Regions from separate parts of the Homo sapiens genome. Here regions 1, 2 and 3 are each linked to region 4. The links come from fine-mapping of genetic effects on gene expression. A gene starts in region 4. Each other region holds a variant in brackets. All regions are shown on one strand. Distances are between the middles of the regions.

What was found.
Region 1: its variant is fine-mapped to the expression of SMG7 in whole blood (TOPMed, PIP above 0.99).
Region 2: its variant is fine-mapped to the expression of SMG7 in whole blood (TOPMed, PIP above 0.99). The same link has a PIP of 0.9 or more in B cells, CD4 T cells, CD8 T cells, NK cells, lung and monocytes.
Region 3: its variant is fine-mapped to the expression of SMG7 in whole blood (TOPMed, PIP 0.97).

The regions. Positions count from the first base shown.
Region 1 is chr1:183,643,662-183,651,537 of GRCh38, forward strand. APOBEC4 (apolipoprotein B mRNA editing enzyme catalytic polypeptide like 4) reads right to left here. Exons shown (of 2, transcript NM_203454.3): 2 at 2,614-5,150. The coding sequence starts at 5,120. The coding sequence ends at 4,017. It also overlaps a transcript of RGL1 not described here. Among named protein-coding and RNA genes, the nearest start is that of APOBEC4, 5.7 kb to the right of the region's middle. RefSeq lists a silencer at 2,093-2,387. The variant G/A (reference allele first, on the strand shown) is at 3,087.
Region 2 is chr1:183,550,677-183,558,552 of GRCh38, forward strand. It overlaps SMG7 (SMG7 nonsense mediated mRNA decay factor), which reads left to right. Exons shown (of 23, transcript NM_001375584.1): 21 at 75-245; 22 at 369-514; 23 at 1,142-3,515. The coding sequence ends at 1,255. It overlaps NCF2 (neutrophil cytosolic factor 2), which reads right to left. Exons shown (of 15, transcript NM_000433.4): 15 at 4,886-5,554. The coding sequence ends at 5,442. Among named protein-coding and RNA genes, the nearest start is that of NCF2, 36 kb to the right of the region's middle. The variant A/AATG (reference allele first, on the strand shown) is at 3,692.
Region 3 is chr1:183,559,709-183,567,584 of GRCh38, forward strand. It overlaps NCF2 (neutrophil cytosolic factor 2), which reads right to left. Exons shown (of 15, transcript NM_000433.4): 8 at 7,496-7,637; 9 at 7,212-7,280; 10 at 5,996-6,071; 11 at 4,297-4,322; 12 at 3,726-3,877; 13 at 3,487-3,598; 14 at 388-565. Among named protein-coding and RNA genes, the nearest start is that of NCF2, 27 kb to the right of the region's middle. The variant G/A (reference allele first, on the strand shown) is at 3,594.
Region 4 is chr1:183,469,350-183,477,225 of GRCh38, forward strand. SMG7 (SMG7 nonsense mediated mRNA decay factor) reads left to right here and starts at 3,150. Exons shown (of 23, transcript NM_001375584.1): 1 at 3,150-3,300. The coding sequence starts at 3,272. SMG7-AS1 (SMG7 antisense RNA 1) reads right to left here and starts at 2,633. Exons shown (of 5, transcript NR_040063.1): 1 at 1,371-2,633; 2 at 1,116-1,191; 3 at 325-450. RefSeq lists silencers at 826-1,015, 2,988-3,137 and an enhancer at 2,201-2,832.

The DNA of each region.
Region 1 (7,876 bases), 170 kb after region 4:
GCTGGTCTTTAACTCCTGGGCTAAAACGATACTCCCACCTCAGCCTCCCAAAGTGCTAGGATTACAGGCATGAACCACCGTGCTTGGCCAAGATCTTGATTTTATACCCAGAAGTGGAATTGCCTGATGATATATTAATTCTCTTTAATTTTTTGAGGAACGATTTGCACTTAATTTTAACTAAACAATGCAATAAAACAATGTTCTATTGCCTTGGGTCCCAGATTTAGTACATCCCTGAAAGTCAGGGACACCTAAGATAAGATAATCTTGGGATTTATGTTTGGCATGAGGTCCTGGGCGACAGGGGAGTGGGGGAGGGCCAAAGTTCTGGGATCTAGAACCTACTAAAGTTTTCCACCCTAGCCCACCCTGCCTACCTGGCTTCCATAGTTTAGAGGATGCCCATTGGTACTGTGGTTTGAGCAGAATGACAGAAAAGCTACAGGACAGGTCCTAAATAAATATGGATTCTTTCAGACTTTGTAGTGAATCTGCATTGTTATTATTTAGAGAAGCATTAAGGCATAATGATTAAGAACATGGATTCTGGAGCTTGACTTCTTGGGTTTAACGCTCAGCTCAGCCTTTTTTTACTACTTGGGCAGTTACTTAAATTATCTGTGCCACAATTTCCTTATATGTAAAGTAGTTATTATAATAATATCTACCTCATAGGATTATTGGGAGGATTAAATGAATTAATACATGTAAGTGCTTAGAAAAATACTTGACATATAGCTCTCACTCAATGTTAGTAATAATGATAATATTATTTTTTAGAAACAGGGTCTTGCTATGTTGCCCAGGCTGGAGTGTAGTGGTGTGATCATGGCTCGCTGCAGCCTCTACTTCCTGGGCTGAAGCAGTCCTCCTGCCTCAGCCTACCAAAGTACTGAGATTACAGGCAGTAGCCACCACGCCTGGCCGAATAATATTATTTTAAATTAGCATAGGTTATGATGTGGCTTTCCTTTTAAAATTTATTTTATTTTATTTTTTTAATTTTTAAATTTATTTATGTGGCTTTCCTTAAAAACCAATACGAAGAGTAAGATTCCATTCTGTGAGTTAAACTTTTTGGATTGCTTATACTATGAATAAAAAAGATGTAACGGCAGTTTAAAGAAATAGGATTTGCTGTCCGATCAGCAGGATTAGATTATAGCTTGATGAATTCTAATCTATTTAGTATTATATAAATTGGATTGTAGCTTGATGAAACATAGAAAACGGATTTCTAGTCACATAGAAAATCGATGCTATGACAGGAGCTGGTCATAGAGGTTTGTGTTGTCTCTTGTTGCCTAGACCCTCCCAAACATTGTCCAGGAATGAGATGCCTTTGTGCATACCCCATCCACCACTTCATTCTAAGCAGATGTCAGTCACCACTACTAAAGCAGAATCTGATAGCACTAAACATTTGAGTCACATAATGGACTCCTCTAATCCATAAGGCAACCTTATGATAATTTGGCTTGCTATGTAGCTTATCTACATGGAGAGGCTATGTAACCTGGATGACTTGAATATATGCTTGCATATCCAGTTATAAGTCTTACTAGAAATCAGTACATTAGTTTTTTGTCTTTACATGTCAATCTCAAGAGGTTTGTTAATCCAAACCTGCTTCTGATGAGTAAATCCATTCTCCCTGTACTTACTAAGTAGGTAGTTGAGCATATAAAGCTAAGACCCCCAAACCCTGGACCTTGGTAGATTCACCAAGATAATGTGTCCGTCTCTTCAGTCTCATTGTTTTCTTGGGATATATCCCAGTGCCTTTTCCAGATCATCATATTACTAGCTACCTTAATTTACTTCTATTTTCTTTATTTCCATTAGTTCTATATGTGTGGTGGCAGAGATATTCTTCCATATCACCATTGCCAGTTGGCTGAAGAGGGGTGGAGCAACCCAATTTCTCTCTCTCAATCCCCGGCCAGCCTGATATGACCAAGAATCACTGCGTAGTGAGCAAGGAAAGCTAATCACTGCACTGCAGGATCTCACTTTGTGGAACTATTGCTTTGCTATATGCCTTCTTATAGCAGACGGAGCTGAAAGGAACCTTAAAGATGAACTAGCCCACATTTCTTGTTTTACAGATGAGGAAACAGATTACTTGCCTTGGACAGTATATCTTTATGCTCTTCTAACAGTCTTTTGTCTAAGGTTGGCCTGGACTTACGACCTGTGAGTAATCTTCTTTGTAGCCCTAGTCTTATCGAACCAGTACAAAAGTTTAACTGCCAAAGGCACTTTCTTTCCTATAGTTCTGACAACTTCTCCTTTTGTTATATACCACTGATATCCAGGTTCAGTTCATCATCTATTTCAGACCATGTTTCTAATTGGATTCTCTGTAGCCTGGTTCATGTTGTAGTCTGCCATTTTCTGGCAACAAATTGGATCTATTTTAATAATGATCAGAGATGCTGGATTTGTCATGTTGGGATCTTTTTAACTCAGTATCCCAAATTGTGGACATAGGATTTCATGAAATAAAAATAAACCTCAACAGTACTTCTTTAAATAATACTCACTATATACCCAGAATAAAACTATATTCCAGTAATTCCATTAAAATTTGTATGCTAACAATAAAACTTTGTTTTAAAATTTTTATTCATGTTTATTTTAACCACAATACTAATTGCTATTCCTAAAATATGTTTTTCTTTCTCCTCCTCCCTTATGGAGTATTAAATGTTTTAATGTCATGGCAAACTCTTTTATTAGCTTAGGATTACTTTATATATATATATAAAGAAAAAAATTAATAGCAAGTTACGAGAAAATGTACATTTTTCTTGTAATGTATCTTTACATATTTCAAAGAGGCAAGTGGCAGCAAATGTGAAATAAGCATAAGCAAAGTGCTTTCATTTAAGTGCTTAGAGGATTAATCAAGGAGCACTTCCTAGAAGTGTGTTTTGAAGATTTTAAGAGAAGGTACAAATATTCACTGGTGACGAGGATGGAGTCAGAAAGAGGGAAGTAAAACACACATTATGCATTGGGAGCTGCATTAGAAAGGGGAATGGATGCTAACAAAAAGAAAAAACATCTCTTGCAGGATG[G/A]TGAAGCAGGCTTTCAGCTGGGATGGAGAAGGGATGCTGAGTTACAATCATTGGTGAAGTTATTGAGATGTCATTTCAGCCTTGCTACTCACATTTTGCTGGGTAATGTGCTAGATCCTAAGGGAAAAGCTAAAGAGAAGGGAGAGACAGTGCTTGACCTGTAGGTACTTATGATCTTGCTGATGAGACAAGGCAACAGGAAGTTAAAGGAGGATCCTTGAAAGCCAGTAAGAGGAACTTGGATTTTATACAGTATGTGATGACAGGAGCCATTGGAGGTTCTCATGTATCATCTTACCTCTATCATCTGCTCAGAAGGGAGAGGTCTGAGCTGGGGAAGATCAAACTGAGCAGGTGGCTAGGTTTTAATCTTTATAGCTATATGTAATCAGCAGAAGAGCTTTTTCCCACACAAAACTATTTTGAATCACTTTAGAAAAAAATGAGCTGCCTAAAATCTTCTGTCCATGATTAACAATTAATAGAAAATCACTGGTTTGCTCCTGCAAACAGCACTTAATGTCAGTAGCTTCAGGCTGTTTTTCAATTTTACAGTAAATTTTTTACCGAAACAAATTTAGGTAGCTATTTTGTCCATGGGCTTTTGTAGTGGAAAGATGATGTGAGTAAAATAGAATAATGAGATTCCTTTTCTGCATCAAAATATTAGCAAGCTGCTAATGGTTCCATTTTGATACTGCCACTTTCAAAATAAAGGAGAGAGATCAAGTTGCTTATGGAAACATTTTGGATTATGTTTAAAATAGTGTAACTTTATAATAGTTGATATGGTAAATAATTCAAGGTTTGCTTTTAGTGCATCAGTTTATCTCCATCTTGGCTCAGCCCTGAGAGAGAAAGTTTCCAGATTTTTATTGCCTATCTAATAAGTCCCTTGGTAATTGGTTTCATGCTGTAGGAATGTAGATTTTATTTCTTCCCTTTCTTCTTCTTCTTTTCATCTGCCTCCTTGCTACTTGCAAACTGTTCTGTGATTTCCACTATCTCCACTGACCTTCCAGTGGGAAGCCTTCCAAGGTCCTTGGTTTCCTGGAATGACATTTGAGGCATATTTAAGTGCCTTACGATATTCCTGGGTTTATTTGGGTTTTGGCCCATATGCATTGGTGGTAAGTCCCTGAGAGGCACTAGCACAAAAACAACAGGAGCCCTGAGGTCTGGAGGTAGGTTGGGTTGGAGTTGTCCACTCGGCATTTGAAAAAACTGTCCAGGAAAGGCATTGTTTAAGGGGTAGCTCTCTAAAGCCTCCTGAGCTTTTGTGTTTGGATTCCTTTTTGTCTGGAGAAGAACATCAGTGAAGTAAGGTTTTACGCCTGTTATGGCATTGATTTCATATGCGTTGTGCCTGTCAGCCAGTGCTCTCCCAGTTAAAATGGGCTGAAAAACATGTGATCCTGAGACACCACTTATAAAGCTGTGGAGAACAGAATGCCAGATCCCACCACTTATTGGACTCAAAACAACCCGCGGCCATAAGCTGGCCAGGCTCCGGAGAGCTTCGCGGTTCCATGCTGAGGCAGGAAAGTCCATCTCAGTATGATAGAGCTGAGAAAAATAAATACTAAGAGTGATGCCTGGATACGTAATCAGGAAATTATACATTTTGCTGATGCAGCAGTGGTTAGCTTCATTACAAGGGGAGTTGTTGGAATACAGAATGATATGCCTGATGCTGTCATTATTGTATATGGCTGAGTCAAGATAACCATTCATTTCAAAGAGCATTGATTCTGGATGGATATAATTCCCAGTGCAACTGCTAGCATGGCCCTTTTGCACCAGGCTACCAGAAGAAGTTTTTAGTTCATAAAATGTGAGGTGTTTTGTTTGAGGAAATGTTGTCCCATAAGGGAATCCAAAAATCTGACAAAATTCTGTGAGGGAAACTCTTGCTTCTTCACCTGTTCGAATATGGTAAGGACAATTAGAGCAATCGAGAGAGAAGCTTAGCCAGTAATATGGTTTTACTATTGTTCCATGATTTGCTAGGTACTCCTCATATATGGGCTCCATTGCTAGATTTACTGTCTTCTAGCTGCAAACCTAAACAAGGAAGAGAAATTACATATAAAACCAGCGCAGGAAAAACTGAAGACAGTGCATTAATTTATTAAACCATACTTTCTTTAAAGGAAGTAGCACAATAAAGATAGTGATATATGCATAGATTTAAAAGCTCAGGATTCATTATTCTTTATTGAGACTCCTAGAGCATGGGGAGGAAACAGAAGAGAAAGGCGTTCTTCAACTTTACCTGTTTCATAGATTCCAAGTCAGTAAAGCAAATGAGTTAACAATGCAAGTTCTAGAAACAGACTGTCTGGTTTTAAATTTGGGCTTGGCCAATTATCAGCTTGGTGGCCTTTGACAAGTTATTTAACATTTGGGAGCCACAGATTCCTTGTCTGTAAAATGAAGATATTAATAGTACTTACCTGATAAGATTGTCTTGAGCATTGAATAACAGAATGAATATAAAATGCTTCACTAATGTGCTTGTCACATAGTAAGGACTCAGTAAATATTAACTCTTAGTAGTAAAAGTACAAATCCTAGGGTTATCTAGATTATTCCTAATTATAAAAGTACAAAAAAGTGTTTTGCATTTTGTTCATGATCTTTCTTCTCAGAATATGTTAACATCTAATGTATTGTGCAGAACTATTCAGTGTGCTTGCATTTAACATCAACTTTCTTAAAATCACTGGAAATAATTTGGAGGTTTTTGGGTTTTTTTTGAGACTAGGATCATGGGATCTCTTTTGCTTAATGATAGAGACTTCTTAGGAAAGTGCCACTTGAGTATTCTTTGGATTGTGGACACTCATTCATTGACATGTAAGAGTTTTCTTTCCCGTGAGTGGGTCTTGTTAGAAGACTTTTGAAAAATTACTGTTACAGAAAGCAAATATGGTTCTTTAGAATATTTCAAATTAGTAGTTTCTGGGATGTTAAACTCAAAAAGCTGAGATCTTTAAGTAATGATTTTTTCCTTTAAAAAATATTCCTTCAGTTATCGTTGTTCCTATAATGCTCTAGGAGCTACCTATTTTGTTTGTTTTTGAGACAGTCTTGCTCTGTTGCTCAGATTGCAGTGCAGTGAGATGATCATGGCTCACTGTGGCCCCAACCTTCCGGGCTCAAGTGATCCTCCTGCCTCAGCCTCCCAAATAGCTGAGACCACAGGTATGTACCACCATGCCCAGATAATTTTTTTATTTTTTAGGAGGGATACAGTCTCCCTATGTTGCCCACACTGATCTCGAACTCCTGGGCTCAAGTGATCCTCCTACCTTGGCCTCCCAAAGTGCTGGGATTACAGGTGTGAACCACCATGTCCAGCCTTCCGTCACTATTAACATGTCTATTCCCTCCAGTCTTTTTGCTATATGTGTATGTTACATATAATATAAACAAAGTCATGTTTTATACCCTGCTTTTTCACTTAATATTGTGCCATGAGCATTTTCCCATGTTATTAAAAATAATATTCGGCCAGGCGTGGTGGCTCACGCCTATAATCCCAGCACTTTGGGAGGCCAGGGTGGGCGGATCATGAGGTCAGGAGATGGAGACAATCCTGGCTAACATGGTGAAACCCCGTCTCTACTAAAAATGTAAAAAATTAGCCAGGTGTGGTGGCATGCGCCTGTAGTCCCAGTTACTCGGGAGGCTGAGGCAGGAGAATAGCGTGAACCCAGGAGGCAGAGCTTGCAGTGAGCCAACATCCCACCACTGCACTCCAGCCTGGGTGACAGAGCGAGACTCTGTCTCAAAACGAAAAACAAAAAACACAATATTCATGGCTAATTAGTTTTTTATTATGTAACTGTAACATTCAGTTTCTTGCCTCTTTTAATTATTATAACACTTTGATAAATATTTCTGTGAGAAATTATCTATTGCATATATTATATAATATTTATTATAAAGAATCAGATTTTTTTTTTTTTTTAGAATAGATTACTAGAAATCATAGTATTAGGTCAAACATTGTCAAATCGCTTCCTAGGAAGGTGTACCAATCTTATCACATTCTCTTACAATGTTGTTTATCCCAATTTGAGAAGGGAGCATTGGTATTTTTTTGTTGCTATAATGTGTGCCTTTATTATTTCTAGTGAAGTTGAACACTTTTTGACATGCTTATTGGTCTGTGGTATTTATTCTTCTGTGAAATATATTTGATTTTTTACCTATTTTTTGCGTGAAGTTTTCCTTATTGGTTTGCAAGACATTTTTATGCATCAAGAATATTAAATCTGCCACATTTGCTGCTAATATTTTACCTGGTTTATACAGCCTTTTAATTATGCCAATGTTATTTTAATTGCACCAAATTTTACATTTTTATGTGGTCCAGTCTCTACTCCTGTGATTTTTTTTCTTATTGTATTTAGAAATGCCTTCCTCATCAAAGCATAATTAAGTATTCCCCATATTTTCTTCTAGTATTTATGGTTTCATTTTTTACATTTAACTTTGTCAGATAACAAAACTGATAAGGCAGAAAATTTAAATGAGGTAAACTGACCATTGCAACAGAATATATTTTTCACTTTTCAAAATCTCACTTATCATATCACAAGTATGAATACTTGTGCTAATAAATAAATTATGGCCTCTCATATGGAAGTGCTATGTTCACCTTCTGTCTTCCTCAGCCCACATCAGCTCATTCATTGCTGTATTTGATACAGCTTGATCTCTAGCCTGAAACCTGCAGAGTTCCTATGCTAATCCTATCCTGGGCAGAAAATATGTTAAAA
Region 2 (7,876 bases), 81 kb after region 4:
TACAGGAACCTGTAGTTCTTTGTATGTTTGTGAAACAATGATTTACTATATCCTGTGTTGCTATTATTTAATAGATCATTCAACACCAGCCAGCCAGTCTCCTCATTCCTCTAACCCAAGCAGCCTACCCAGCTCTCCTCCAACACACAACCATAATTCTGTTCCATTCTCCAATTTTGGACCCATTGGGACTCCAGATAACAGGGATAGAAGGACTGCAGATCGGTGGAAAACTGATAAGCCAGGTGAGATCTACATTTCATTGCCAGGCAAAATTGAAAGAATTTACTCTATCCTTCCCTGGGGTCTGGCAATTGGCAGTGATAGAACATCTTCTTGAATTTTTCTTATCTCTTTTCATCCCTTAGCCATGGGTGGGTTTGGCATTGATTATCTCTCAGCAACGTCATCCTCTGAGAGCAGTTGGCATCAGGCCAGCACTCCGAGTGGCACCTGGACAGGCCATGGCCCTTCCATGGAGGATTCCTCTGCTGTCCTCATGGAAAGCCTAAAGGTGAGTAGATTTCAGGAACAAGAACCACAAGATTATTACAGCAAAGGTGTCTCTGCTTTCATTCACATAAATAGCTAGACTTCTCAGGCCCTCGGAGTTGACTGATACATAGCACATATATAACAAAGTCCTAGAAACATGGTCTGCCTTACAAGATTCTTGAGTGATAATTTTTAATTTCTGAATTCACTAGTGGTAAAGCAGTATCTTCAGGAGGACAAAAACAAAGGTTTTAGTTTCATTCTAAGGTTAAGAAAATTCTGATTCATTTTGGAATGTTTGATTTAAGCCTTTTCTGACAAAATAAGAGTATCTAATTTTAGAAATGTTTTATTTGCCTGAAAACTTTATAGTAAATGCCCTGTGTGGTACCACATACAGCTGAGTTTCAGTAAAAAGACTTGACATAAAATGTGATTTCACTTCTTCTGGTTTAAAATAGTCTTAATGGAAACTAACTAGCTTTAAGAGTCTTATAATGACTTTTTCTAATAGCTGGATTTTTATGGGGAGTGGGGTTGGGTTTTGGGGCCATATATATGCCTTTATATTTGGCTGGGATTGAAAAATCCCTTTCAGACAACTTGGCATTTGACCTCTGCTGACAAGATCTGGACTGTTTTTCAGTCTATCTGGTCCAGTTCCATGATGCATCCTGGACCTTCTGCTCTGGAGCAGCTGTTAATGCAGCAGAAGCAGAAACAGCAACGGGGACAAGGCACCATGAACCCTCCACACTGAGGCCAAAGTGGCAACCTGGGAATGAAGGCTCCATAAACCATGGCATGTTGGGTTTGCAGGACTGGCCCACACAGTCCCCTGCAGGTGGCAGCCCTCTTTTCTGTTTCTCGCTGTCAAGAGGGTGTAAGTATTCCACCAGCCCGCTGAGTGTGCACGAAATGTTCGCAGTGCAACAAAAAGAAAAATCCATCAGGAACTCTCCGTCCCCCCGGGGCCCTCCGGAGGGAGAGAGAGAGGAACTGCTGTTTATCTCACTCAGTTACTTGGTATCACCGCCTCTCACCTTCTCCATCGTGCATGTCCCCAGCCACATGGGAAGTGAAAGCTGAGAAGGGAAGGCAGATGGGAGAAGCCAATGGGAACTTCTCAGTCCTTTTTTCCTCTTTGGGGAATAAAATAGGAATCCATTAATGATTGCTTTGCTGACTGAGAATGTAGTTGAAATTATTCTTAAACATCTTTTATTATTATTACTCTCAGTAGTAAAATATCACACTGAATTCTTCCATACACAGGTGTGCTTCTAGTCAGTGTGTAGCAAGGAAAGCCCCGTTCACTGCTCCTGTGAGAGGTTGGTGGTGACAGGATGGGGAACCGACCTCTTCAGCCAGTGGAAATGTTCCATAAGGGAGAGTTCAAGGCCTGTCAGAAGGCTCTGGTAGGCCTTCCTCTGGCCAGGAGACTCCAGCAGGGAATGCCCTTCACTCTGTAGGTGCTCGAGCCCCAATCGAGGATACAGTGTGGGTGGTGGTGCTGGGCTGGACTAGCAGGTAGACTGCTGTAGGATTTCAAATTACGTTTTTGATTCCTGTACATTTTACAGTCGCACAGCAAGCAGTCTCACAGAAGGCAGGCTAGTCCATTCACAGCCTGACACGTTCTAATAGGTAGAAGCTTTCAGTGTGGTTATTTTTTCTTTGGTTGGTTTTTGTGCCCCCATTCTACTTCCCACCCTCCTGCCCCATCTCCATCCCTTCTTTTACCCAATGCTGTATGCTAGTAATTGTTTTTATTCCTAATGTGTGCAACATCACATCTCCCCAAGAAGCAACAGCATGGGGTCCAGCAGTTGGGGCCCAAAAGACAGTCTGAAGAGGAAGGAAGCAGCAGTATCTGCGTAGCCCACAGAGGGCCCAGGCCCCTGCCCAGCTGCAGTCTCCCAGCCTCCACTTTCAGAGTGAAATTCAAGGCAGCACGGACATGTGCCCATCAGGCACAGAAGAAAACACGACGTCGTCCATTTTGGAAGAGACGAAAGAAAGGAAAATAAACTCTTTGTATGATATTTATTAGGAGGAAAGAGGACTGAAAATGTTCTTGTGTAGAAACAGAAGGACAGCATTTCTGTTAGTCATTTCCTGGAAAAGTAATATTTTAAGGGGAAATTATGGAAACAATCTAATTGTTCAATTGCTGTGCTAGTGGTAGGGTTTATTTTCTGGGAGGTCTCTCCTTTGTGTGTCTGTATGTTTGTGTACACACACGTGCCCATCTGCTGTCCCAGAGGGGAGGGGTTGTGTGTGCGAGTGTATGGAGTTAGTGTGGAACTTAAGAGCTGGAAGACAGCTGTAGAGCAAAGCACATCCAGGAGCCCCAGTTGTCACTGCAGTCTGGGCAACCCCAGCAATGAAAAGGGGTGAGATAACGCTCATTGCTCTTCAGAGAGAGTGGTTGGAGCCCCCCCCGCCCCGTATGCTTACATTATTGCTCTTTTAGTTTGACATGGTGTTTGGGTTTTGTTTTTTTGAAAGGTCTGAAAAGGTGAAGCCCCCTACCCAATGGCAATATGAAACCTTTTGTGCTTCTCTTCAGCCCCTTCCCTGTGTCCACCTTTCTCTCCTCTTCCCAAGCCTTTTTCCTACTACCTTTACCCAGTTTGTGTGTTTGAGCTCTGCATTCAGGCAGCTGCAACATTCCAGTGTTTGAACTGTCACTGATTCTTGCGCCCTAGACAAGCTAACCAGGTTTACCATCTCACTCCCAGTAATACCCAGCTCCTATCTAAAGCCCCATTCTGCATGAGAATTTGGTGTTTGGAATGTTTTCTGACTCTTGGGGCGGGATTCCTCGCCTTATCATCCTCACTGTGGAGTAATGAGGGGGAGGAGAATCTTTATCAGAAACTGGTTTTGTGTAGTAAACTTTCTTTTGTGGTTTTTTGTTTTGTTTTCTGGGTTTTGTTTTTTGTTTTTGTCTGTGCAAGACCTGCAGCTGCTGAAAATCAGCTTTGCCTTTAATTAAACCATGTTCTCTCCAACCAGATCTGTGTATCGATTCTTTCTTTTCTATCCTAAAAGATATAAAAGAAGTATTGAAGAAAATCCAACTTAAAAGGCAAGAATTTCAACTACTCACAGGTCATCCAGGGAAAGGCATAAATGGTCAGAACTTGAATATTTTTCAGGGTTAATTTTGCTTTTAGTAGCATTCCAAACC[A/AATG]ATGAATTACGGAAATTATAATTAATTGTAATGGAAAGGCATGAGTAGTAAGAAATCGATTATCAAAATTCTTTTATTTAATAAAAGAATGCCTTATGTTAAGGAATTAAGAGCCCATCATTTTTATTTTTATTCCTATTGTAGCTGTTACTGAGGCAGTTCAGAGAGTTTATCCTTTTGGCCTGTAAAAATTCACTGAATCTGATTAGCAGCAACATTAATTAATTCTTCTTCTTAGCTTTGGGGTTTCTTTTCTTTGAGTTGTGTCCAAAGTTTCCAGTGATTGGTAGCTTGCTGGGTCTTCCAACTGTGTGCTGGAAGCCAGTGGTATAGCTAACCTTAATGCCTGTGTGCTCACCCTGACCGGCTATCCTTTCACCTGCATGTTGATTCAGTCTGCAGTTCACTTCCTTATTCTGCTTTTCACAGGCGCCTGCACACTTGAAAAATTGTTAGCAAAGCTCCACATACGCTACAACAAGAAGTGGGTAGGGAGAGGAACTAAGGCCAGGCCTTAAGGTCTAATAGTTTAGTTAGTTACAGAATCCTTCACCCAAGTTAATCCTGAAAAATTGGACAATTGGGTTAGCCAAATCCATAGCATTCTGTTATGTATATTAGTATAGCATAGTATATGCAGTCATTTACCATATAACAATGTTTTGGTCAACAATGGACTGCATATACAATGATGCTCCCATAAGATTATAATACATTTTTGCTGACCTTCTCTATGTTTGTTTACACTGATGATACTTACTTACCATTGTGGTATAGTTGCCTGCAGAATTCAACATAGTAACATGCTGTACAGGTTTGTAGCCTAGGAGTAGTAGGCTATACCTGGTAACCTAGCTGTGTAGTAGGCTATACCATCTAGTCTTGTGTAAGTGCACTCTAGATGAGTTTGCACAACACGTTTCTCAGATCATGTCTCCATTGTGAAGCAGTGCATAACTGTATTACGAAGTGTCAGCTAACAAGATACTACTTACGAACTAGCTTCATGAACACCGCTGCTTTTCATCACTTAAATGTTGGCGATTGATATATATTCAGTATTGAGTTCTTAACACATGTTCCTCTCTGAGAATGTACAAAGGTATGTAATTCTATTAATTCTCTGTGGAATTGAGTGTTGTAGTCCATGAGAACCTAACTCAGTCTAGGTTCTGTTTAAGCAACAAGACATAATGAAAAAAGAAAACAAACAAGTTTATTTGTATATGCCTTATGAGTAACCTATAAGGTTACTTCAAGCCTTAAGAGCCAATTACAGTAATGGTTCAGAAACAGGAATATTTGTACTTACTCCTTGGGCCTGGACTTGGGTGTCTTGTTTTTGTAAGATGCTAGGTTTTTTTTTATTGTGGTATGACACAGAAAAGTGCACCAAATGTACAGCTTGATGAATGTTTACAGTGTGAACACAGCTGGCTAGCTAGCACTCAGAGCAAGAAACAGGATCAGTACCTGGAAGACTCTCTCGTGCCCTTTCCAGACACTTCCATCCACTTTTCCTCTCCCCTAACTCCTCCATTCACCTGTCCCCATCTCCTCACCCACTGTGCCCCAGGAAATCATCCTGGGTACTCACATCATTGTCTAGTAGGTTAAATTTTAACAGGGAATAAATAGTTAACACTTCCAAACTGTAATGTCTCAGTACAGTATACAGCAGAAGGGTGCTAAATCTTACAAACAAGTAATAGGGCTTCATTTTCTTCAGCTTTGTAGTTTGTGAAACATCCTAGACTTCTCTCCGAGTGCTTTCCAAATCTGTAGTTGCGCAGTCTTCAACAAAAACTTTGGGGAAAATGCCCACCTTCCCTTTGCACTCCCCTTCCAGCCATTCTTCATTCACTGATAAAAGGAAAAGTACACATGGATTTCTAAAACCACTGTAGGAAGATTACCCTGTCTGGCTATTCCACACAGAATTTGTTATCTGTCACCCTTCCCCACCCCTAATTGTGATCAACAGGGAAAAGACAGTATTGCAAAGTGGTTTGAGAGTGAACACAGGGTTTAACCATCTTATTGATCTGTCTTAAACATGATAATGAGCAAAATGAAGAAGGATAAATTATGTTTTTCAAAAAGTTACCAGATAGAGAAGAAGGGTCAAAGAAATTGAACAACGAATCCTTAAATAGAATTTCTGTCCTTTCCCCACCCCCAACCTTGACAGGGTCTCACTGTCACCCAGGCTGGAGTGCAGTGGCACAATCTGGGCTTACTGCAACCTCTGCCTCCTGGGCTCAAGTAATCCTCCCACCTCAGACTCCCAAGTAACTGCAACTACAGGCTGTGCCACCACGCTTGGTTAATTTTTGTATTTATTAGAGACAGGATCTCGCCATGTTGCTCAGGCTGGTCTCAAACTCCTGGGCTCAAGTGATCCACCCAACTCAGCCTCCCAAAGTGCTGTGGTGATAGGGGTGAGCCACCGTGCCTGGCCCAATTTTTTAAGAGAGGAGAGAATTTTACCTGCGCTTTGTTGGGAATCTTTGTTTTGACTACAGAAAAGGGACATGCCATTGGTTAAATATATTAAAAATGAAAGTTCTTTAGTAAACTTTCTTCTTTTCACTGAACTCCATTAAACAGGTGAGCTGGAGCTAGTGATGGGTTAGTACATGTTTGTTAAATATAAATATTTTAATAGCTCCTACTCAGAGCCTTTAATAGAGTGCAGGCATTGTACTTAAAAAATATATTCAGACTTCATAATAACTTGTAGGTATCCATATTTTACTAAGGAAAAGGAGACCCAGAGAGATGAATAGTTTGTTCAGAGCCATTCTGCCAGTAAAAATCAGACAACTTAGGTATGATCTCCAAAGCCCACCTACCTGACCACACAGCCAGTTCAGAAGTTTGTCTTTGTACATCTAGATCAGACATTAAGGCACTGGTGCCTGGATCCTGCCCCCAGAAATTTTGCTTTAATGTGTGGTGTGACTGGGCAGCAGTTTTTTCAAAAGTTCCCTTAGGTAATTCTAACTGCAAATCACTGTCTTGATTCTTCTTACAGGGTAGGTCGTGGACTGGAAGCATATTAGAAATGAAAAATCCCAGATCCAAACCAGAGTCAGAATCCATTTAGGAAGATTCGCAGGTGATTCACATGCACATTAAAGTTTGAGAAACACTTTGTAGATGAGACCATCTCATAACTTGAATGCAATTGAACTCCCCTCTGTCCTACCCTGACCGCTAAATTCTGTTTTCTGTTGAAGTGCTACAATATGGGTATTTCCTCAACTTAGACTTGTACAGATAGGTCATAGTAAGACGCATACTGGCTTCTCTCCATATCTACCCAAAAGGTTGTTTTAGTGTGTTCTTTCATTGTATTCCTGCTCCCTCTCCCAAACTCCAGACAATTGAGCTGGTTGGTTGATTTAGGCACCTTTAAAGTGGCACTTGGAGGTGTTCAACCCAGTTCTTCCCACTGAGTTACCATTCTCTCTTGTTGGAACACTCTGCTTCTATATTACTACTACTCATATTTTTTTTTTTGAGACAGAATCTCACTCTGTTGCCCAGACTGGGGTGCAAAGGTGCAATCTTGACTCACTGCAAGCTCCATGTCCCTAGTTCAAGTGATTCTCCTGCCTCAGCCTCCCAAGGAGCTGGAACTACAAGTGCACGCCACCACGCCTGGCTAATTTTTTTATTTTTAGTAGAGATGGGGTTTCACCATGTTGGCCAGGCTGGTCTCAAATCCTGACCCCAAGTGATCCACTCACCTTGGCCTCCCAAAGTGCTGGGGTTACCAGCATGAGCCACCACGCCCAGCCTATACTACTCATATTTTTAATTAATTGCTACACACTTGTTGTATACTCTCTCTACCCCCATTAACTTTTTTTTTAATTTTAATTTTTTTGTTTTTGTTTTTGTTTTTTTTTTGAGACTGAGTCTCACTCTGTAACCCAGGCTGGAGTGCAGTGGCACAATCTCAGCTCACTGCAACCTCCTCCTCCTGGGTTCAAGAGATTGTCCTGCCTCAGCCTCCTGAATAGCTGGGATTACAAGCACCTACCACTATACCCGGCTAATTTTTGTATTTGTAGCAGAGACAGAGTTTCACCATGTTGGCCAGGCTGGTCTTGAACTCCTGACCTCAAGCAGTCAGCCCACATTGACCTCCCAAGGTGCTGGGATTACAGGCATAAT
Region 3 (7,876 bases), 90 kb after region 4:
ATTAGCTAGGCATGGTGGTGGGCGCCTGTAATCCTAGCTACTCAGGAGGCTGAGGCAGGAGAATTGCTTGAACCCAGGAGGGGGAGGTTGCAGTGAGCCGAGATTGTGCCACTGCACTCCAGCCTGGGCAACAGAGGGGGACTCTGTCTCAAAAACAAAAACAAAAACAAAACAACTCAGCTTCTTGTTGCTTTCCTGGCTACTAGAGCAATAGACAGGGAAAGTCTGAGTGCTCAACTTTGCTCCCTCCAGCTAGATGCTAGGAAGGGGGTTGAAAACACTGGCTAAAGTTTTGTTTGTAGATTATTGATATTTTCTTCTCTCTGCCCTTGACCTTGTTTCTGCTAACATGTAAATTTGTTTCTATAGTCTTGGAGTAGCACTTACCCTTTGATAACACCAGGATTATATCCCCTTCCTGAAACTCCAGGTCCTCTGGTTGGGTAGCCTCATAACTGAAGAGTGCCTCCACTTGGCTGCCTTTCTTAAGCTGAGGTTCTGTTGTCTGGTTATTAGCATCAGCTTTTTCACTTTCCTTGGGTTCATCTGGAAAGCCTTGGTCACCCTGAAATAATAAAGGGCCTGTTAATTTTCCCAATTTCCTGCCAAGTGAACACTGAACATCACTAAAGGAAACAGCGAAATGTCAAAGTAGAACCTGGGATATAAACTCATAAAGTTTGTGATCAGTGCCTTGTGTAGAGCTTATATGCTCTTTATGAATACTGGATGGTTGGGTAAATCAGTCCCCAACCTTTTTGGCACGAGGGACCAGTTTCATGGAAGACAGTTTTTAGATGAATGGTGGTGGGTGGTGGGTTGGGGGGTGGTTTCAGGATAAAATTGTTCCACCTCAGATCGTCAGGCATTAGATTCTCATAAAGAGCATGCGACCTAGATCCCTTGCATGCACAGTTCACAATAGGGTTCACACTCCTATGAGAATCTAATGCTGCTGCTGATCTGACAGGAGGCAGAGCTCAGGCCAGTATACCTGCAGCTCACCTGCTGTGCAGCCCTGTGCTGGCCCGTGGCCTGGAGGTTGGGGACCCCTGGGATAAATGAAACCAAAAGGTCTGCAAAATCATATACAGTCTTAAAATATCTTACTGAAACCTTACAATAATCTTGAGACAGGTAGAATGGGCATTATTATTTCTTTACAGATGGGGACAGAGCCCTAAGTCAAAACTGGCTTTCTTAGCATCAACTCTAACAGCAACACTAGGGACCTTGTTAGAAATGCAGACTTTCAACTCCATCCCAAAACTACTAAATCAGAAACTCCCTGAAGGTGAATCCTGCAATCTGTATTTTAAGTCCTCTAGGGAATTCTGATACTTGCTAAAGTTCAAAAACCACTGCACAATGCCATACTTGTTTTATCTGTAACAACATTTCTTATACATCTTAGACTTATGATCTTAGACTTCTTCCACATTATTGTCACTTTTGCTTCACAAATGAAGGAGAAGGATGCGGTTTCTACAGATGTGAATCATAGAATTTAACAAATCAACATTAGAAATGCTGCTAGGCTTGTATGTACCGAGCATTATAAGTTCTAGCTTCTTAATGTTGTTTGTTGAACGTTGGTATATTTTTATTGAGAGGCAATACAATGAGGTGGAAATGGCCCTAGAGAGTCCACAGAGAAAGGTTTGTATCCCACCTCCACTGCTTACCAGCTCTGTGTCCCTAAGCAAGCAGTGTAACTTCTCAGAACCTCAGTTACCTCACCTGAAATTGAGGCTAGAAGAATTCAATGAGATGACATACAATAATAGTAGTTGACATTTATTGAACACTTACTCTGTGGCAGTACTCTTCTAAATATGTATAAATATTTAGACTTGGTTAATGGTAAGTGTTCCTGCATAGAGTAGATGCTTAATAAATGTTAGTTCATTTTATTTTTCTTTCTTTTCTTTTCTTTTTTTTTTGTATTTTTAGTACAGATGGGGTTTCACCATGTTGGCCAGGCTGGTCTTAAACTCCTGACCTCAGGTGATCTGGCCCATCTCGGCCTCCCAAAGTGCTAGGATTTCAGGCATAAACCATACCAGGCCTCTTTTTTTTTTTTTTTTTTTTTTTTTTTTTTTTTTTTTTGAGGCAGAATCTCTCTGTCACCCAGACTGGAGTGCAGTGGTATGATATCAGCTCACTGTAACCTCCGCCTCCTGGGTTCAAGCAATTCTGCCTCAGCCTCCCAAGTAGCTGGGACTACAGGTGCACACCACCACACCCAGCTAATTTTTGTATTTTCAGTAGAGATGGGGTTTCACCATGTTGCCTCAGCCTCCCAAAGTGTTGGAATTACAGGCATGAGCCACTGCGCCTGGTTTTCTTTCTCCTAGTAAGTGAAAGCCTGCTTTGTTGCCTCCAAAAGTAATGGATAGTGATAAAGAACATTCAACAGTGACTCCTGAGCCTGGATTAAATTGCAAAAGATTGTGGGGAGTTGTAAGAGGGTTGGCTATGTGCAGCCACCAAATAGATTGAAGCTGCTGTCAAAGGAAAAAATTTTAATTAAAAAAAAGTTTAAGTGAAGTAGTTCACATTTAGAGCAGAACTCCTTCTAGGAAGAATCTTTTAAAAAAGATGCTGAAGGGGTTAGTCCAAAGACAGACAGCTGGAAAACCTAGAGTGACTTTTCAGACTTCCAAGAGACCCCTTACACTCACACTCACTCTTACCCCCAGGATCCTGGGGCCTTTTGTCTCAGCCAGAGACACCAGGGAGTCTCATCCCCAGTGGCTGTATTTCCTGAAGGCAATTTTCTGAACGGGGAAGATACCTTAAACAGCTTTATACACTGCCCTTTTCTAGGCTCATTCTCTTTCACTCTTCTTCTCCCAGCTCATGTCTGTAATCCCAGCACTTTGGGAGGCCGAGGCAGGTGGATCACAAGGTCAGGAGTTCAAAACCAGCCTGGCCAAGATGGTGAAACCCCGTCTCTACTAAAAATACAAAAATTAGCTGGGTGCAGTGGCAGGTGCCTGTAATCCCAGCTACTCAGGAGGCTGAGGCAGGAGAATTTCTTGAACCTGGGCGGCAGAGGTTTCAGTGAGCCAAGATCACACCCAGCTTGGGCGACAGAGTGAGACTCCATCTCAAAAAAAAAAAAAAAAGGTGAAGAATGGCTATGAGCTGAGCCTTAAGCTATGATATGACTTCATTCCAACCTTGCTTGACAGTAATGGATGGGATGTTTGACACAGTCAGGCAGGGAGCTGATGGAGGGGCAGGAGGCTTTCTGTGAGCTCCTGCCCTGCTGGGCCTGCTGTTCTCTTGTGGGAAACTCTCTCCCTGCTGCAAATGGGGTGAGGATGCAGGTAAAAGGGAGGCAGAGCTGTGACTTATTACACACCATATCCCCAACACCACATATAGTGCCTAGTACACAGAAGGTGCTTGATAAATTTCAAATTGTTGAGGAAGTGGCTCAGTGGAAATGTAACTTTAGATGCCCCTCATTGCACTCACCACTGTGTTCTCACACCACAGAGTCAGGCAGTAGTTTTTCACCTGGCCCCAGGCATCCTTCATGCTGTCTTCTGAAAGGGGCACCAGCTCATTGCTGTCCCGAGGCC[G/A]ATAGCTGGGTGGGGATAATGAGTAAGAATCCAGTCAAAGAACATCATCACAAAAACCATCCTCCTCTTCCCTCCTCCAGGCCAGCACAAGGTTCCCACTGTACCCCTCACAGCTGCCTGCATGGAGCTCACCTCAGCTTAGTGTGTTCCAGCCGGAGCTCCAGTTTCTTAGACACCATGTCCCGGACCTGGCTGTAGGGGAGCCCGGGCTGAGTCTTCATGACTACCGTGTACTTGTAGTGCACCTTGAGTGTGTAGGGCATGGGAACACTGAGCTTCACTTCCTGAGTGGGGAGGAAACAAAGGGAACTCCTGAGTGTCTGAGGCTTTCTCTCAACATCCTGGATCACCGCAGTTTCGTGATTTGGCACAGGGGGTACCCAATACAGCAGGGGAGAGGCCAGTAAGTAACTGGTTTCACAGTAGCCTAAAAGGCCTTCAGAGGTCCTTTAGCCCAACCCTTGCTTGGACAGGAATTCCTACTGAGTAAGATCTGGCCCACTAGCTTGGGTAGTAGGAAGTGTGTGCATGATAGTGGAGGAGGCTATTAAGAAGGTCCCTAGCTCATGGACTCTGTAAGGTAGCAACTGGTTCGACCCTCCCTTTGGGGCTCTTCCTATAATCCAGACAGACATGTCTGTGGTTGATAGCCCAAGCTATCCCATCTTCTACCACTTGAAACAGTATGAGGGAAAAATGTTACCTTAGGCTCTTCTTTTTGTTTCTGGCCTGAATGGAAAAAGTAGGGAGTAAAACAAAAGAAGATGGTGAATGAACATCCTTGGCCAGCCCCTGCCACACACAGATGAAACCTCTTCAAATAGGGCCCCCAACCTCTTACCCTTTAATTTGTGGGGCAATTATTAACCTTAGTAAACTGTGGGGAAAATCTCGCCCTGGGGAAGCATGAAGGTCATGAACACATGAACAAACTCAGTCTCTGCTTCTAGGGAGCCTATAGGTAATTACCAAAGGACCAGCATATCCTCACCAACCCACAAGGTTAGCAGGGATCCCAAAGGTCAATTAAGCCCACGGGATCCAAAGCAATGAAAATCGGAGTGCAAGGTGAGCCAGAGGCCACAGGAAGAAGTATTAGAACCACTGATCCTCACCTTATTCTTTATTTTTGTGTATGTTTCCTAAAGTTTATTAATTTAATCTAATCTATTAATCAAGCAATCTAATATTAATCTAATTTATGTAAGAGTAGCATGCATAAAGATATTTACTATAGGGGGTACATGATCAGAGAAGGCCACTGATCTCAAACCTAGCTGATCATTAGAATCACATGGGAAGTTTTTTTCTAAAATACAAATTCCCGAGCCCCATTCCAGTCCTAAAATATCAGAGCCAGTAGCCTAGGACTCTGTATTCACAAAATCATCCTAGGTTTATATGTGATCCTTGATGAGCCTCTAGACAAAAGATAACAACAAAAAACCTGTCAAGGACATTGAGCAGGAGCAACGGGAGAAATTTGAATATGGAATATACATTATATAATACTATCATATGAATGTTTAGTGTCCTAGATACCATGATTCTATTGTGATTATGCAGGAGACTGCGTTTTTGCAGCTGTGTAGGGTGAAGTGTCACGAGTCTGTAACTTTTCAACTGGCTCGGGGGAGAAAAATAGAATGGAGCAGGGCGAGTTCATGGTGCAAAATGTTAACAATTGGTGAGTTTAAGTGAAAGATATTCTGATGTTTATTGTATTCTACTGTCAGCTTTTCTGTAGGTTGGACATTTTTCAAAATAAAAATGGGGGAAGGGACATCCCGAGTGATTCTGATGATCAGGCGCGTGTGGCAATCATTGATCTAGAATCTGGCCAACCACTCACTCTGCGTCTCTACCAAGCGCTTATCCAGAATCTGCTTCAAGTGCACTTCCCAAGACAGCCCTCTCCACACTAGGAAACAGCCTTTCAGAGAGAACATTTCCATTTCACATCTGCCCATTGGTTCTTTGTTCATCCTCAGGGCTCCACAGAGCAATTTCTTTTCCAGATACAGTGCCTCAGACATTTGAAAACAGCCACTCCATGCCCCTCAGAGATAAGCAGGTATAGTTACTTCAACTTTTCTTCCTGAGACATCGTTTCCCTACCTAATGATCAAGGGGTTTGGTGACTACGTGAGTCACTCAGGAACCAGCTGCATTCACCCAAGCCCCGTGAGTGTTCTGCAGAAGGCAGGGAGAGAGGGCACTGATTTCATGTTTGGGGTGGGTGGTGCAGGAAAGGGGGATTCTGGGGCTGCGTGGTCATTAGCTGAGTGACATGTTGGGAGAAGAAGAAACCAGAATTTCCTGGAAGGCAGGGAGAGGAACTCAGGAAGCAGCCTGGCATGCTGCTGCACCCAGACCTAGGCTGTGGCTCCAGGACCACTCACCTGGTGACAGCTGGGGTCTTCCAGGGGCTTTGGAACTAGGAGGAGCTGGGATGTCGGACTGCGGAGAGCTTTCCTCCTGAAGGCAACAGGGAGCGACGGTCAGAACCTTCATTCAAAGTTCCCAGGCAGGGGTGGATGTGGGGAAACACCCCTACAGAGACCCCATGTAAAGGAGCCACATGCAGATAACGTCCTAAAAGTTGGAATGGTAGTGACATTTGGGGAAGACGAAGGAAATGTTGGCCAAAAGAGGAGGTGGAGTTGGCCTGATGAAAATGAAAATCACAGTAGAAAGAAGAATCCTAACCCGCTAAAACGCCCTTGCCGCTTTAGCAACTCTTTCAGCCATATTGGAAATCCACTGGCCGTGGGGCAGGACTGAGCTCTTGTCTCCACTGCAGAGGGCATTGAGAAAGGAAAAATTCCACTTCTCATTTGCAAGGCATTTGAAGCTTTTCAAAGCATTTGGATATGGTGACTGACCAGGGAGGGCTGAGCTCATATACAACTGGTTGCACAGTCTAGAGACAGACAGTCTCCACTGCCATTGAGTCACTTACAGGGATGCTCAGATCTGACAAAGACAGCTCTCTAGGCCTGGCAGAAGGACAGACTTTTGAAGTGTGAGGGAGGGAGTAGCAGCAGTTTAGAAGCAGTGGCTGGCAAGGCCCACTCTGATTCAAAGCTCTAAGGCAGATCTCATTTTATTATTTTTATTTGTATAGAGGTGGCATCTCTCTATTTTGCCCAGGCTGGTCTCGAACTCCTGAGTTCAAGTGATCCTCTCACCTCAGCCTTCCAAAGTGCTAGGATTACAGCCATGAGCAACTGCAGCTGGCCTCATTTTCTTTCTAATGGCATTGTACCAGCCAACACATTGACTACTCTTCCACGTGAAGCAGACACACTTGGGAAGACCTAACCCACTCATATACTGTAGGCTTTGCTTCCCAAGTGACTTCTGACCAGGAAGAGTCACAGAGGTGGGTGGGCCCAATGGGACCTACAGATGCCTCCAACTTAGCACATCTGGGCTTTTTTCCCCTCATTCCCAGGTTCAGCTCTGGGTAGCTGGTGCCATCTCAAGGCGGGCTCAAGACTAGTGAATCTTTCTCCAGGGGTCCTGACAACACCTCTTTTACACTGCTTTTCTCCCCTCCAGGGAGAGATCCCTAAAGGGTGAGAGGAAATGGGTCAGGCCTTGGCATCACATTACCTGGGGCTGCTGCTGAGGGTGGATCCGCAGCTCAACTGGTTCAAGGTAGTTGCAGGGAACAAGCCCCTTCTGCAGTGCAGCACCACAGAATCAGAAAGGAAAAAATAAAGATGTGCTCATCAGTACCCACACCACAGAACAGCCCAGAGTCCTGGGGAAGGGATGACGAACAGACAAAAGAACTTGGCTGGTCTGCAAAGAAGGCAGCAGATACTGCTCCACAGAGACTGCATTTGCTGCCAGGATCCCATGCCCATCGCACCAGCCCCTGATCCTCTGCATACCTGCCCGTTGAACATGACCGTGGCCCAGTTATCATTGCCCTTCTTCAAGACAAAGACAATGTTCCCTGGCATGACCTGGAGCTCTTCTTTTGTCTCAGGCACAAACCCAAATAGCACACGGTGAGCCTCCCCTTCCAGAGCCCTGCAGAGGATAGACACAAGATCCAGCCCCCATCCCCTCACATGATGCCATGGCGCAAATACACTGAACTTGGAGCCAGGGACTTGGCTCCAGCCTGGCTCTAACTCCACATCTAACTGCAACTGCCGAGATGACACTGAGCCTGCCTGGGCTCCCAAGAGGTCTCAGCAAGAAACTGGTGTACACCTGCTCATAACCATATATGCAGAGGGGCAAGAATAAAGCAAAAACCCCACAAC
Region 4 (7,876 bases):
GTGAACAATATCTATTGCAAAAAGAAAGATGTTTGTAATTCTACAAGTTTGTTGACTAGGACAAGTGGAAATAGATGAAAATGGAAAATGTGTATTAAACAGTATATAAATAGAAGGTAATAATTTTTCTGAGTCCTATTGATTTTTGAAGGTAATTTTAATATTAGTATCAAAGTCTTCTAATCTCTAAAATATACTACTATTCTTCTATTTAGCTAGAGATATTGTAAAGCTATTGAAGACTCTTATAAGATTCTTAGGAAAGCTGCTATAAAACACAGACTTTATTATTTCTGACCTCATGTGTTCCTACTTTGTTCTTACCCCAATTACTGCATCCCTCATATTGCATCCTAATCATTACTCTGAGCTCTCTACCAGCAGTTGGGTTTCCTCAAGGCAGGGACCAGGTCTCTTTCACTGTGGTGTCCATCATAACCAGAACAGTGTCTGAAATATAATAAGTACTCAGTAAATGTTTATGGAATAAATCAGCAAACACTAACAAAAGGATTCATCTTTCTGATCCGTTTCTCTATTTCCAAAATGAGAAGATAGTAGTAATATTTTCCTAGATTGCTTATCAGGAATGTATGATAACTGTTCATACACTCTTTATTGGAGATATGTGCCACAGACATAAATGGCTATTACCATGATTAGTAAGGGGGTAATTATTACAATTTTTATTCTGGTTGAAATCTAACCAATTAAAAAATCTAACCAATACACGATCACACTGGTCTTTAAATTAAAAAAAAAAAAGAAAAATATCTAACCAATAAATTTTCGGAAAGAAATGTAGGCTATTTGAGGTAATAGGTAGTAGGAGTGTCTATCCTTGGGCGCTCATGGTAGAAAGAAAAGCAGAACCCCACCGCGGAAATGAGAATAATCCCTCACTAGGTGGCTCTCTTTGCCGTGAGTGGGCGGCGCGTCGGGGCGGGGCGGGTGATTGGGGGCATTGTACTGCCGCAAGCGCTGCGTGTCACGCCGCACCATACCAGGCGCTGGCAGCATGAGGGGCATAGTCCACTTTCTATTTCGTTAATGACAATCTGTCCTTGGAATTTATTTCAAAGCAGGTTGTACTTTCGTTTCCGCTAAACTTATACCTGATGTTTCAACTGAACATTGGTATAGTCTTATTGGTGCAGGTCTCAGAGAAGGATCTTGAAAGTGCCTCTTCACCTGGCGTAGAAAAAGACAGCAGGAATCAGGTAGCCAAACCAGACCAAACCAAATCAAAATAGCCCATTAAAATCCTTATTTTAACTATCCTATGAGGGCTGCATTCTTGGAAGGTTTTATATAGTTACATATCCTAAAGTACTTTGGGATAGCTCCTTAAGTGACTCCACAATACGAACCGAAAATATAACTTGTAAAACGTCAATTTCTTCAAGTCATGGATGATGAATTTTCCAGCTATTTCTCATACACTTCATATTATTATTGACTTCGTTCTTTATTTCAGCTTTTTGGCCCGAAACCTGACACAAAACACACATAATAAATATCCAAAAAGATTTGTTCTAAGAATGAAACTTCTTTTCCTAGACTCCTTTCACCAGACAGATGTATCTAGGGTTCGTTCTTCTTGATCCTCTTTTATCCGATGTTTTCCTCTCTAACTCAACGACACAGAATGACGACTTTTAAAACACTGCAGACCCGTGAGAAGAGAAAGGTTGCAGAGCAGGGAGGAACTTGGAGGTCTGCCTTTAATAATCAAGCAGGATCCCCACTGCGGGGTGCCTATCAGAGTGATGGCGCTAGTCAGCCTTCCGGCTTGTCCCCGGCTTAAATGATAGAAAACCACGTGTTAGCCTTCTAGGATGTGTTCCCACCCTCACCCTGGCCTCCTCGCGGCAGGCTCGCGACAGCTAGGTCAGGAGGGAGTACGCGGGTGGGGTGGATTTGGGGGAGGGGTCGACTCGCCAGAAGTCGGCTATCCCCGTCGGCAGGGAAGGCATCGCGGCTGTCGTGTGCCGCTCTCCTCCCTCAGGGACCCCGTCCAGGCGGGATCCCGCCTCCCAGAGCCCAAGGCAGTTGTGGGGAAACCCCTTGCCCTTCCTCGCCGCTTGGCGCTGTCGCCTCGCCCTCCCGACTCCAGCCCGCCGCCCGCCAGCCTCCAGGCCATGCATCCTCTTCGCAGGCCCAGCCCTCTCCACGCCCGGCTCTGAGAGGAAACTACGGAGGTGGTTCCCGCTCGCAGGCGGGTGGAAAAGCCCATGGTGAATGCCTCGGGGTGTCCCCCCAGTTGCTGTGGGAAGTGGGAAGGGAGGAGGAAGTGGACTTCACCACCGGGGAGAACTATATCGATTCCTAACTTGGGGGAGGCCTTTAGATGGAAGGGAAGCCAACGGGGAACCCTGGGTGGTTTCCTGGGAATCCATTGGCCAAGGGGAGGGTGACCCTGTCCGCACACATCGGTTACTATGACAATATAACCACAGCCTCCAGTTGCCATGGCAGCTGCCTATCCAATCCGATTGTCTTCTCTTCCTCTCCGGGCCCCACCTTATCCCCTCCAAGAGTCTCCCAGCGTGCATGGGGAGGGGCTGCAGCGAAGAGGAGAGGGGGTCCTTCGAGTCACTCTCTACGCGCGAGGGAAGACAGGCGTTGAGGGACTGCTGGGAGGAACTGTAGGAGGAAGGGGCGGCGTTTCCGGTGGGGAAGAGTGGAGGCGTGCAAAAAGGAAGAGGGAAATCGGCAGGAGTGATAAGAAGGGGGAAGACTTTGAGTGTAACTCCCGTTCTTTTGGCCTGGGTGTTCCCGGTGGTGGGATTGGGATTGCCCCCTTGCGCGGGAGGAGAAGGGTGGATTGGCAGGAAGCCGCCAAGCGCCACCAGCCGGTCTCTCAGAAGCCGCACAGGCGCCACACAGCTCGTTGATCCCAAAAGGGAGCGCTACAGAGAGGCGGAAATCACTGAGGGACAGGCGCTGCTGAAATCTCGCGAGAGGGACCCCCTCCCTCGCCCGGTCGCCGACTTCCTCTGCTTCTCCTCTTTCCCCCGCCCCTCCTCCCTCCCCCTCCCCCCCGGGTCGGAGTGTCCCTGCGCCCCACGGGCCAGAGCAGCAGCGAGAGCAGCTTTCCCCACTCCCTCCCCCTCGCCTCATTCACCCCCACCCCCCTGCCGAGCGAGGAGGAGCCGGAGGAGAGGAAGATGGCGGCGGCCGCCAGCACCCGCGGTGCCGCGGGGCCGCTCCGAGGAGCCTGAGAGACCCACGGAGGCTTCGCGGGAAGACGCGGCGGCGGCGGCGGAGGATGAGCCTGCAGAGCGCGCAGTACCTCCGGTGAGTGCCGAGGCCGGGCTGGTACGTAGGGGGAGCGGGCCGCAGGTTGGGGCATGGAGCAACAGACACCGAGGTAAGTCCGGGGTGGCGGGGGAGTTGCTGCGTCCTCTCCTCGCCGGGCAGGTCGGCGGAGACTGCAAGGGGATCTGCGGGAGGGGGCGGAACGGGTATGGGTGCCTAGCCCCTACCGCCCGGGCTGAGCTCTGGCGAAGCCGGCTCGTCCCGGTGCGAGGAGGGAGGTTGGGGAAGCGTGAGAATGTGCGCGCGCGCCCTTGGTCTCGGGTTTGCTAGCGAGGGGTGGAGAGAAACGTCCGGGGAGGCGGCGGCGACCCCGAGTGGAGGTGGGTGTGGAGGAGTCTGATCCCCGTGGCAGGGGACTCGTGGTGTGGCGTGGGATTGGTTGGAGCGATGCATGAGTAGAGGACGGGGAGGAAGTCTGCACACCTGGGGTGTTGGGGCGGGGGAACCGCGGAGGGCAGACAGGGGGAGAGGGAGACCGCAGGAAACTGGAGCTTGTTCTTCATTCTCGGGTTGGGAGTATTGAGGAATAATGTCATCTGTAGTTAGTTGGCGGTGTGGGGAGGCGTGAAGGGGAATAGATGGGGAAGTGAGGAAAGAGGGAGGCACTGTGGACAAGGTTGGGTTTTTCAGAAGAAACTGGGTTAGAATCAGTGTAGTCGGAAGATACCATTCTGAGAGTCGTGTGTATTCATTAAGAGTGGTGTAAGGAACTTGTATGTCAGAGGTAGAGTGACACATGGGAATAGTGTGTGTGTGTGCGAGATGTGTGTCTGGGGTGGGGGGCGCGGCGATTGATGCACATTTCAGGATGAAGATGTAGATAGGTTGAACTTAGTACCTGATGGCGAGAACATATTGAATGGAAGGACACCAGCTTTTGTGTCAGCTGAAAGGTTCCATGGAAGCTGAGTAAGAGCTTGGAGGCAGAGGTAAAGTGGGTCAAAAATCTTGATAGAGAAAAGTAAGGTTGTTAGATCCTGAAATTAACTGGGGAGTGACTACTGCTTAGAAAAGGGGAAGACTTTAAAATTGGTCCTTTTTGTCTTTCAGGAGCAGAACTAAGAAAGGGAGGCCTTATGGAAAGATGTTTTTTAAAAAATTGTTTCATACCTTGCGGAGGAGGGAGTTGGATGAGGTGGAAGTCTGAAATGAGTGGAAAAGTCACTTTAGCTGTTTAGTGACATGAAAGTATTGACGTGTGTGGATCCCTATATGTATATTGCAAGAGGTGTGTAGTTACCTGATACATAGGGTGGCCATTATAATTTTTAAAGTAGTAAAGTTTTATTAAGCATAATAGGGAGAGAAGAGAATGATGAGATATTTGAACAATGCTTGAATGCTTGATTTTAACACAACATATATGCCCAGTGACCACAGGACAGTTGGAATGATGTCTGTAATTTGAGGTCCTTTTTTTCATCTTAGATATCCCTTTGTTGTTTAATATTTCAAATAAATATAGCTATGACAAAGATCTGTTGTAGGTGCTATAGAGAGATGGAAACCATCAGGGTGCTGATTAGTCTTAAGGAATTTGCAGTTGAGTATCTGTTAGGCAAGTAAATTAAACAGCACAGAGTGTAAGTACCATGAAAGATACCAAACGTTGCCGGGCACGGGGGCTCACGCCTGTAATCCCAGCACTTTGGGAGGCCTAGGCGGGAGGATCACCTGAGGTCAGGAGTTCAAGACCAGCCTGGCCAGCATGGTGAAACCACGTCTCTACTAAAAATACAAAAAATTAGCTGGGCATGGTGGTGGGCGCCTGTAATGCCGGCTACTCGGGAGGCTGAGGCAGGAGAATCGCTTGAACCCGGGAGGCAGAGGTTGCAGTGAGCCGAGATGGCGTCATTGCACTCCAGCCTGGGCAACAAGAGTGAAACTTCGTCTCAATAAATAAGTAAATACATAAATAAAAATAAAAGATACGAAGTGTTTTGAGTCCAAAGGCAGGAGATCACCTGAGCAATGGGAGGAAATCAGGAAAGACTTTGTTTATTTGCTCATTCATGTACTCATGATTCATTAGTTGTTTTGTTGATCACCTGTATGGGAGGCATTGTACCAACATCTGAGAATAGAAAAAGAACAACTCCACCCTCCTTTTACAGAGCTTACACTTTGTTAGACTTCAAGAAAATGGCACTTAGGATATTGTTCATCCTTAATGTTCATTTTGACAGATGTGGATTGAGAAGCGGGGAATTCCAAATGGAAGGAAACTGAGCAGAGTTATGTAGGTAGGGAAGCTGGGGGGAAGGGAGGTATTCAGTCCAGTTAGACAACAAGGTAGTGTGATATAGCTGAGAAAACTTAAGAGTTGTAGAGATTATCAAGTTTGACCCTTTCCTTTTACACATGAGGAATGTAAGCCCAAAGAAGGTAAAATTGTTGAGGCTCATATAGCTGGTATGTGGAAACTAACTGAAATGTAGGTCTTCTAACTTCAAGTCAGCTGTAGTACACTGCATGTCAGTATTCATCTGTTCTTTCCACAAATATAAGTTGAGAACATAATATATTCTAGTGTTGAGGGTACACTGGTGAATAAAAGGGTGAACATGGGAGGATATATTATAGTAGAAGGGCACAGTCAGTAAACATAGCAGTTAAATATATATCAGGTGGTCACAAGCACTAGGAAGAGGAATAAAGTAAGACAGGGATGTACTGTTTTATCTGGACAAAGTGGTCGGGGAAATCCTATTTGATAAGGTGACCATATTTAAGAGGATCCTGAATATCATGTTCCATAATTTATAGTTAAAATGGGTAGACAATGGAGAATCTGAGATGATTTGCTAGAATTAATATGTTCACAGCTATGTGTTAGGAAAATGACTCTGTGTAATGTAGTGGTGGATAACAGAGAAAAGTAAGGTTGTTAGAGCCTGACATTAATTGGGGAGTGACTACTGCTTAGAAAAGGGGAAGACTTCAAAATTGGTCCTTTTTGTAAGGTTCTTTTCCTTACAAAAGATTCCCTTTGGGACTTTGGTCCTGAATAAGGTACTGGCAGTGGATCTAGAAAGTTATGAAAAACAAATTGGCAGAGTGGTGGTACTTTTAATGGGGAAGATCAGTGGACTTTGAGAGGCTTCTTGTTAATGTGCCTTATATTTTATAGCTTGACATGGTAGGGAAGACTTCCTTAGATGTGGAATCAATGATAGTTTGAGATGAACTTAGTTCTTTGAAGAAGGGAGAAAAAAAATGAATACAATGATATTTTTCAGCTAAAATTGAGCAGGCAAAATGGGGGAGGCATAGGTCCTGGGGTCCCTTAAAGATTCCTGGAGCCAGTCTTGTCTCAATCTTAGGCATTTGTCCTAAGTAAATTAAAACAAGTGTTAGAAGTCTGAGACCTAGGTGGTGGTTGTGGGAATCATAAAGGCTTGTGCCAGTCTGAATTTCCCTCCTCCTCTTTTAGATAATCATTCCATTTAAAGTCTGCAGTGGGGACACTAGAGAATGTCTTTAGGGAAGCATTATGTTCACGTTCTTTGAAAATAGAACTGTTGGTTTTTATAGACACTTCAGGGAGGATGCCGAGTATTGCTGAATGGATGTGGTTGGGGGGTGTAGCAATTGTTTTCGTGACCTTGACTTGAAGAATTTTCTTGCCTACCTTTGTCAGTGGTGGAAGATCATGACTGGGCAATTTTTAATCTCTATAGCTACAGATCCTGCCTCATGTAGATGAAAATTAGTTTTGTCTTGGCTGAATTTTAATTTGTTAGAGTAAATGAGCTGGGATGTCTGGCATTGAAATGGTGGGGTGGTGGGAAACCAAGGAGCAAGATGGCTGTTTCAGAAGGGTCAGAAATGAAGATAGGAGGCAAGAAGTCCCAGTAAGACCAATAAAGAGAGAATTCAACATCAAGGGAACTGAATTAGTCTCAAGTTATAAAAATAGAGCAGAGATGAAAGGAAGAAAACCTATCTTCTATGTGGGAAAGATGATGATATTCTGGGCAGGAAAGGATAATGAAATTTTTTGTTTGTTGAAAGGTAAGTATCTTTTTAATACACTGACAAGACTTCTAAGAGAATCAGTTAAGTTGAAAATACTTTGTTATGTTTTATAAAAATAAAAATATGATCTTAAATATGAGGGTTCTAGGCCGAATAACATTGGGAATTTATTACTCAAATTGAAGGAGAATTCAGAGTATTTTCTCTTTTGATTTATGACAGAATGAAAGATTTTAAAAGACTTTGACACCTCTGTTGAGTAAAAGAAAGGGTGTATTGAATACAATTCATTTGATGGGGGTAGGAGAAGGTTAGGATAGGCCGCAGGTGAGGTATAATATTATGCTTTAAAATAATGGCATTTTGAAAAAAAGAAAAGTGGAAATTAACATATCAAAGTTGGAAAAGCAGGAGTGGGGGAAGTATTAAAGTACCAGACAGAGAAGACATCAAAGTTGTTTTGGAAGATGAGAAAGTAGAATAATCATAGCTATAGGGAATACCAGTCAAACAGGTCAAATCCTGTTATAAAAGGTGGCACAGGTGCCACCGAATGACTTCTGCTGCCATTGTGGGA